3 separate regions of the Homo sapiens genome follow, and regions 2 and 3 are each linked to region 1. The links come from fine-mapping of genetic effects on gene expression. A gene starts in region 1. Each other region holds a variant in brackets. All regions are shown on one strand. Distances are between the middles of the regions. Region 1 holds the start of AAGAB (alpha and gamma adaptin binding protein). Region 2 overlaps MAP2K5 (mitogen-activated protein kinase kinase 5). Region 3 overlaps SMAD3 (SMAD family member 3).

Region 1 (2,500 bases):
GGACCGTTCCCTCAGACTTCGCAGTTTGGCTAAACTCATTGCTGCGTGATGGTGAAAGTGAGGGTGAGAAAAGATCAGGTAAGATTAGGTATGATTCTTAATGGGGAAGTCTATGAAATTGGTGAGTTCAGGGGCTTGTATTTGGGAAAAGGTACATTTAGGGAAGTCTCTCCTAGATGGGAGGTAAGAGATCAAAATTCTGCCAGAAAAATTAGATCCCTTTGACGAGTAAGACCCACTTCAGACCAACTGAGTGACAGTCCTGACAGAGTGACCTTAGACAAATGACTTCAAGACTTAGTCAAATGCAGCTATTATATATGTGATAGTTAAAACCGATGATATATGTGGAAATATCTTAAAGTTACCTCACATAAATGTGAAAACAAAATGCCATGATCATTTCAGAAACATCTGAGTGCAACTATTACAAATTGAGCTGTATTGGACAAGACTTTCTTGACATTTCCCCTCTCAAATTAAAAAGGTCTTTCACTAAGTTTTTAAATGTCACATTTTTTCATTCCAAGTTATCTTGATTTTTCTGTGTGTTCTCCAATGAGGAACATTTAGATCTAAAAAACTGGGGTGTTTAAGAAAAGCAATTCACATATTTCAATTTGTCTCCAAATTTCTTATCACCTCCTAGAGTGTCCGATTTGTCTCTCCTCCACTCCCGACGTCATGGGTTCAAATTTTTCAGAATATAACATTTAAAAATGATGCCTCAGCGTGAGGTTAATTTTTCTGAAGTAAAGGTTCCGGGTGAACGGTTTTAGAGTTTTCCCAGAGGCAGAAAGTCCTGCTTCTGGGGCGTAACCTACAGGGTAAGTCACCGGGAGTGTGCTGGGCCGTGGGGGAAGGTCTGGGTGGGCATTTTTGGGAGCCTCTCGCGAGTTGGAGGGAGTCTAGGGGCGGCGCACCAAATGGGTGAGCGTCGGTGAATCGGCGCGCGGGACCTCGCTCGGAAGTGGCGCGGCTGGGCAGGGCAGGGCCGGGGGAAGCCCGTTTCCCACCTGGATTAAGATGGATCCGACAGGGTCGTGGTTTTCAGTGTTCTGTGCCATGGCTAGGTCAGGGAACGGCTACCTCCGCGGAGGCGCGGTTTCCAAGCACGGAAACCTTCAGCCGGAGCCGCTCGTCCCCATGGCAACACCGCGCGCGACCTGGCCTGTTCCACGCTGGGAGCGGAAGGGGGTCTAGGGGCGGGGTCAGGCCAGCCTGGTCATTCCGAGAACGCCCTCTCCGGCCTGTCTCCCCCTCGCGCCGGCGGCCGTGGTGCAGCCCAAGGCGGAAGCGGCTGCCTGACGGAACCGGCTCGCGAGCGCAGCTATGGCTGCTGGCGTACCCTGTGCGTTAGTCACCAGCTGCTCCTCCGTCTTCTCAGGAGACCAGCTGGTCCAACGTGAGTAGATAGGCGCCTGGGCCGACCTCCAAGGCCCCTGAGCCTCAGCGGGCGACGGACCCAGCACCACGGCCTCTCTGGGCCTTGTCCCCGCAGCGGGCCCTGCGTTCTTCCTCCAGTCAGTGGAGGCGCCCAGTCTCCCCAGGTGGCTGCCCCTATCTCTTAATCTCGTGCTTTTCTGCCCACTCGGCCTTCTTCGGCGTTCCTTTCGGCTTCCTGTGTAAAGTGAGACTGATTTCCCGCTCTGCTCAGCCCAGGCCACAGGTTTTTGCGAGGATCCGTTGAGATGAACCTGAAGGCTCTCCGGAAATTGCGCTAGGTTACAGGAGTGTAAGGTGCTGGAATTGTTGATATCGTGATGTTGTTATCCTTGCTGCTCCGGGAGAGAGTGTTTACTCTGAATTCTGAAGTTTATTCTGCGTATTTACTCTGAAGTTTATTCTGCTTCTTAATGTGTACATTATAAGACTTGTTAGCTTTGTCCGCTCCACTCTAGTTATTCACGCCTTTCATCTGAGGCATGGGCTCTCCGCCAACATGAGTTTTTGGGTATGATTGGGCTAGTGCTTTTGCTTGTAGACCCTCATAATGGCTGTCAGACTTACTAACTCTTAAAAGAGAGAACATGGGACTGGATAATAAGCCAACTCTACTAAAGGGCTCTGTGAAGTTGAATTATAGGTAACTCAAGACTTCTGTTTTAAGTGTATGGCTTAGAATCAGAGCAGTGACTTAGCTGTATGATCTCGAGCAAGTCACCTAACCTACCTACATTCCTTCCTTCTTTTCTTTTTTTTTTTTTAAAGAGACGGGAACTTGCTCTGTCGCCCGGGCTGGAGTGCAGTGATGCGATCATAGCTCACTTCAGCCTCGAACTCCTGGGCTCAAGCGATCCTCCTGCCTCAGTCTCCCGAGCAACTGGGACTGCAGGCTCACACCACGAACCCTGGCTAATTTTTTTATTTTTTGTAGAGCCAGAGTCTTGCTATGTTGCTCAGGCTGGTCTCCAACTCGTGGTTTCAAGTGATCCTCCTGTCTTGGCCGCCCTAAGTGCTGAGATTACAGGCGTGAGCCACTGTGCCTGGCTACCCTTCA
Region 2 (2,500 bases), 430 kb before region 1:
TAACAAAGTTTACAAATTTGCGCTGGGCTGCACTACTCAAAGCCGTCCTGTGGCTCATGTGGCCCGTGGAGCATGGGTTGGACAAGTTTGCCCTAAACCATTCTTAAGCTACCATATCAGATGGAGACAGTTAATGAACAAATATTTTGAACTCCTGGAAGAAGGTGCTGCCTGGAAATTAAGAGGTATGCTAAAAGCAGCAAATCTTTAGTTTCAATCAGATACATCTGACTTAAGTGGATCAATGGAAAGACAAAATAATAAAACAACAAAACTGCTAAACTATATTCCAAAAGACAAGGTGTAAATAAGAACCTGACTGCATTTTTCCAGCTTTCCAACATCTTTTTAACATATATGTAAGCCTACTGTATGACTTTTCCATATTCTCCCCTCAATCTGGTTTTCAGAAGTACTTTATGTGTGAAAGTAGTAGACATCCAGTCATCCTCAAATCAATCTTTGCATTCCAACAAGACTGTTTTAATCACTGTCTCAAAAGAAAAAAAAACCTCATCATTAAGGCTTTGTTCATTCTGTTTTCATTATCTCCTTCCCACCCCCAGGTTTAGAAACCTTTCCTCCATATTTTCCAACTATCTGAATCCTGCCCATCCTTAATCTCAGGCCATCAAAGTCACTATCTTCTTTGAATTTCTGTAGCATCTGTCTGTACCATTTGTTTGGGACAAAGCATATGATTTATGTATGTAACATATGGGACAAAGCATATGATTTATGTATGTAATGTATGTATGCATGTATGTATTTCAGAGACAGGGTCTTGCTATGTTGCCCAGGCTGACCTCAAACTTTTGGGCTCAAGTGATCCTTCTGCCTCAGCCTCCCGAGTCAAAGGGACTACAGATGTTTGCCACTGCACTCAGCTTTAACGACATTTTATACTAAGAGTTACTTAATGTTTTTGCTGTTATCAGTATCATCACCAAAAGAAATAAGTTCATAGGGTAGGAGTATACTTTATACATCTTTAAATGTATCCCTTCCGAGCACAGTATCTTGCTCACTGGTTGATAGCTTTTTAAATGATACATTAAATTTGCTAATATAAATGTCCCCTTTACCAGCAACCTTGAGACATAATTTGAACCTAACAACCCCCTTTAACAAAGTCAATGAATCTGGGCTAGGAGACATATGACCTGGGTTTTAGTCTTTTTGATCCTGTCACAAATTTGGCACATGACTTTGGCCTTGGCATGTGATGTTTTAGTTTCCAACTCTGTAGGGAGATAACAGTTACCTTGTCAATATTAGAGAACTGTGAGGATTAGATGAGATAATGAATGTAAAATTGCTTTTTAAACTGTCCAACATTCTTTAAGTGTATTATCATTATCAA[T/C]TGGTAATCAACCAAGCTAGAAAAAGTTGTATATTTCATTATATTTAGAAAATAATTTCTATTGCTACTGTGGCAATTAAAGCTGTATTTGGGTAAAATACTAGCTCAAAGAAAATAATTTCCAAAGCTCAGTAAGTAGGACTGTAAAACCAATGTGATGTTTACAAGGAAACATTTTTGCCAGACTATATGCACCCCTTCCTCAACAATGCTACTAAGCTGGTTTCCCTAGTTTTACACTTGCTCTATTATAGTTTGTGTTCAACACAGCAGCTAAAATGATCCCTTTAAAACCTAAGTCAGACCACGTCACTTCTTTGCCTAAAACCTCCAAAGCCTTTCCAACTCAGTGCAAAAATGGAAAGTCCTCCCAGAGGTCCCCAAGGCCCTTGTGAGCTGCCCCATACTCTCACCTTGCCACTCTTTTCCATGCCCACTCTGCTTCAGCTCACTGGCCTACCTGCCAGGTATGCTCTTGCGCTGTGGCTCTGTGTCCCTGGAATACTACTATGCTTCCACAAATTGTCCCTGGCTTGCTCCTTTGCTTTAGATTTTTGCCTGAATTTTTCTCCTTTGCTTTAGATTCTTACCTTTTTAGGGGAAGCCTTTCCTAACCACGTAGTATGCAGTAGCAATACCCCCCAGCTCAGATACTTCCTTTCCCTTTTCTTCTGCTTCAGTGTTCTTCTTAACATTTACCTCCATCAACACGCTCCATTTCTACACATAGATCTGTTAATTCTCAGTACTCCCCTCTTCAAGGGAAGCTCCATGAATGCATACTTGGTCTGTTTTGTTCACTACCACATCTAGAATGGTGTCTGGTACATACAGGAAACAATATTTGTTGAGCAAATGGTGAATAAATGGTGTCTCTACTAAACAGGTGAACTAACATGCCGATCCAGAAGAGCATGAATTTGGCCTGAGAAGGAGCTCCATCTTTTCCCATTTAATGGACTACAGTTCAGAATGAATACATTTCAAAATGACACTTCATTCTGAGAAGAATCCATAGTCATTTAAAAGTACTCACTCACAAATATTTACTGACACCTTACCATGTGCCAGATATGGTACTAGGTGCTGTGGAGAGAAACATGAGTAAGACCCTGTCTCTGGCCTCCAGGAGCATGT
Region 3 (2,500 bases), 150 kb after region 1:
TGTTTGCATCGTGTTCTGCTGTTTTCCAAACTCTTTCTCATCCCTCACTCTCTCCTGATCATCATGCAGTCTTCAATACAGTCAAGGTGGGTCCTGCTATCCCCTTGTCGAGTGATGTGAAGTGAGTCCCAAGGAGGCCATGTGCCTTGTGTGAAACCACACGGAACAGGTTCAAGTGTGTAGCTTTTGCACGACCTTGACTACACTACCTTGACTATAACTCTTCCACTGGGGTGATGGGAGGCAGGGGCAAGGAGTTAAGAAAAACAACAAAAAGAACAGTACAGCTCCATACAAAGGAAGTTGACAATCAAATTTGGGCAGATGAATGACACACAGACAAGCTGCCTTCACAGAAAAGAGCCAAATTAATGCATTCAAAAATGTGTACTGAGCACGTACTACATACCAGAGCTGGGAAGTGAGGCAACAGACCATTCATAGACAGTTAAGACTAAGGAGATGGGACCTGTTTTGGGTTTGAAAGAAGAAAGGTACAGAGGAGTCTAGGAGAGCATCCCAGGAAACGTAATGGGGAGCTAAAACATGGCAGCAGTTGTGGACAAAGCACATTGAAGAGGAGCTATGATGAGCCTCACCTGGGAGGAGCAGAGGGGCTGCACAGAGGTAAATCCAGAAAGCGGTCACTTCCAAAGAACTTTAAATACCAAGCTAAGGGACCACGTATCATGCCTACAGAAACATGGTATATCCAGATCTTCCCAGTCCATTCAACGTCACTCCCTGCAACTGACCAGCCAGGACCACCAAGAGGTTCAGAATTCTACCTGTTTAACAGAATTCCCCATCATACATTGGATGGTCTTGCTCCCATCTCACCCAGGACAAGTCTATACACACAGGTCATCCCAGTATGGCCCTGAATTAGCACCTTGGACATACAATTCCCACAGATGAGGACAGATATGAACACTCACAAATCCACTCCACTGCTCAAAAGAATGTGGTGGAAGGCACACTTTCTAAAGGGCTGCATTTCACACATTTTAAGTGGTTTTCACACATTTCTGAGCAAGTGCATGACTGCTGTATGTGTATGAACATAACAAGTTTCAAAAGGGAAAAAACAGTGGTTAAATCTGACTCATCCTACTCTCCTGGCTTTTTTCTTTCTCTCAACACAAACTCATGCACGCGAGCATGCACACACACACCGCACACACACACACACACACACTTTCACAGCATTTCCCCCAAGACTGATCTGAATAACATGGTGGGCCTCGAGGCAGGAAGGATTCACTGGGTCAATTATCCTCATTCTGAACAAGCTCGCCTTCCAGGTGACCCATGAAAACACAATTTAACCATGAACTTCCGGAAGGCAGGACCTGGTTCTACTCACACAGCCTTAAACAGATCAGGTGCCTCATAATCC[G/A]ATTTGATGGAAGAAATAAATATCAGCGCATTCCAAGCCCTGCTTCCCACAGCTAAGGCTCTCCTAAAGACAAAGGCAAATTCAGCTGTGTCAAGTACAACTCCCAACACAAACTAGTTTGCATTCATTCTTGTTTCTTTCAGTGGCACCCATCCTTGGGTTTCATTTCAGTAAGAGTCTCAACAGCTAACAAAGCACTTTAACGTCCATCATCTCATGCAGATGCTTACACCAACTCCATAAGATAGGAGAGGCCAGAAATATCATTCACATTCAAAGATGAGGACTCTGAATGTGAACAACCTTTAGGTCACTTTCCTAAGGTCATGTAGCTAATCAATCTCGATCTTGTCATTCCTTGCCTACGGATCTCACCTCAGTTACTGAGAGTATAACTGAACTTCCAAGATCCTCAAACCTTATTCAGCTTCTCCTAGGGATTACACAGATATTTAATTCAATTACAGCTCAGCCTGTTCCAGTGGCATCATCATCACTGTCATCATCATTGCTATACTGGCACCGACCAGGACAGGATACAAGAGCTCGACCTCAGAGAGCAGGCAGGCCTACCCAGTACATGCCAGAGGGTGGGAGAGTCAGGGGGCTTGCTAAATTTGAAACCTTTTTCTGACATCCAAGTATTTAAACAGCTCATTGACTCCCATACGTAAATATTACTATAAGCTACAGTTTCATTTACCCTGTGCTGGGGCCAACAGGGTTTGAAAGTAGAGTAAGCATAAATTAGGTACTGGAAAGTTTCTTATTTCCTGTAGTGTCAGGTGTTCATAGTCAAAAAGAGAAGAAAAGAAGAAGCAGTGTCACATGGCAAGTCTCCCAACAAACACCAAACGTATGTATTTGCACACAATTAGTCCCTTTCGCTAACTGCCCAAAGCGAGTAGCACAACAGGAATTGTTCTAGACACATCCACAAGGACACAACCCAGGACTTGGGATATTTCTATTTCTACTACAAAGCCCCAGAGCCTCCTGAGCCTCACCTCAGGGTGAGACAGACAGTTTCCTGAGCACCCATGGAAAGCACAAAATGCCAGGTGGAATAGAGCTGATCCTCAGTGACCCAGAACATACCCA

The links. PIP is the estimated chance that this variant, and not a neighbour inherited with it, causes the effect. A credible set is the group of variants that fine-mapping cannot tell apart.
Region 2: its variant is the best candidate, but not a certain one, in a credible set for the expression of AAGAB in whole blood (INTERVAL, PIP 0.77).
Region 3: its variant is the best candidate, but not a certain one, in a credible set for the expression of AAGAB in nasal epithelium (TOPMed, PIP 0.64).

What each region holds. Positions count from the first base shown.
Region 1 is chr15:67,253,464-67,255,963 of GRCh38, reverse strand. AAGAB (alpha and gamma adaptin binding protein) reads left to right here and starts at 1,303. Exons shown (of 10, transcript NM_024666.5): 1 at 1,303-1,405. The coding sequence starts at 1,333. It overlaps IQCH (IQ motif containing H), which reads right to left and starts at 1,178. Exons shown (of 21, transcript NM_001031715.3): 1 at 1,017-1,178. The coding sequence starts at 1,067. RefSeq lists an enhancer at 1,243-1,562.
Region 2 is chr15:67,687,497-67,689,996 of GRCh38, reverse strand. The region is part of intron 13 of MAP2K5 (mitogen-activated protein kinase kinase 5); the gene reads right to left. Among named protein-coding and RNA genes, the nearest start is that of SKOR1, 140 kb to the left of the region's middle. RefSeq lists an enhancer at 401-570. The variant T/C (reference allele first, on the strand shown) is at 1,364.
Region 3 is chr15:67,100,946-67,103,445 of GRCh38, reverse strand. The region is part of intron 1 of SMAD3 (SMAD family member 3); the gene reads right to left. Among named protein-coding and RNA genes, the nearest start is that of SMAD3, 37 kb to the right of the region's middle. RefSeq lists an enhancer at 2,331-2,480. The variant G/A (reference allele first, on the strand shown) is at 1,400.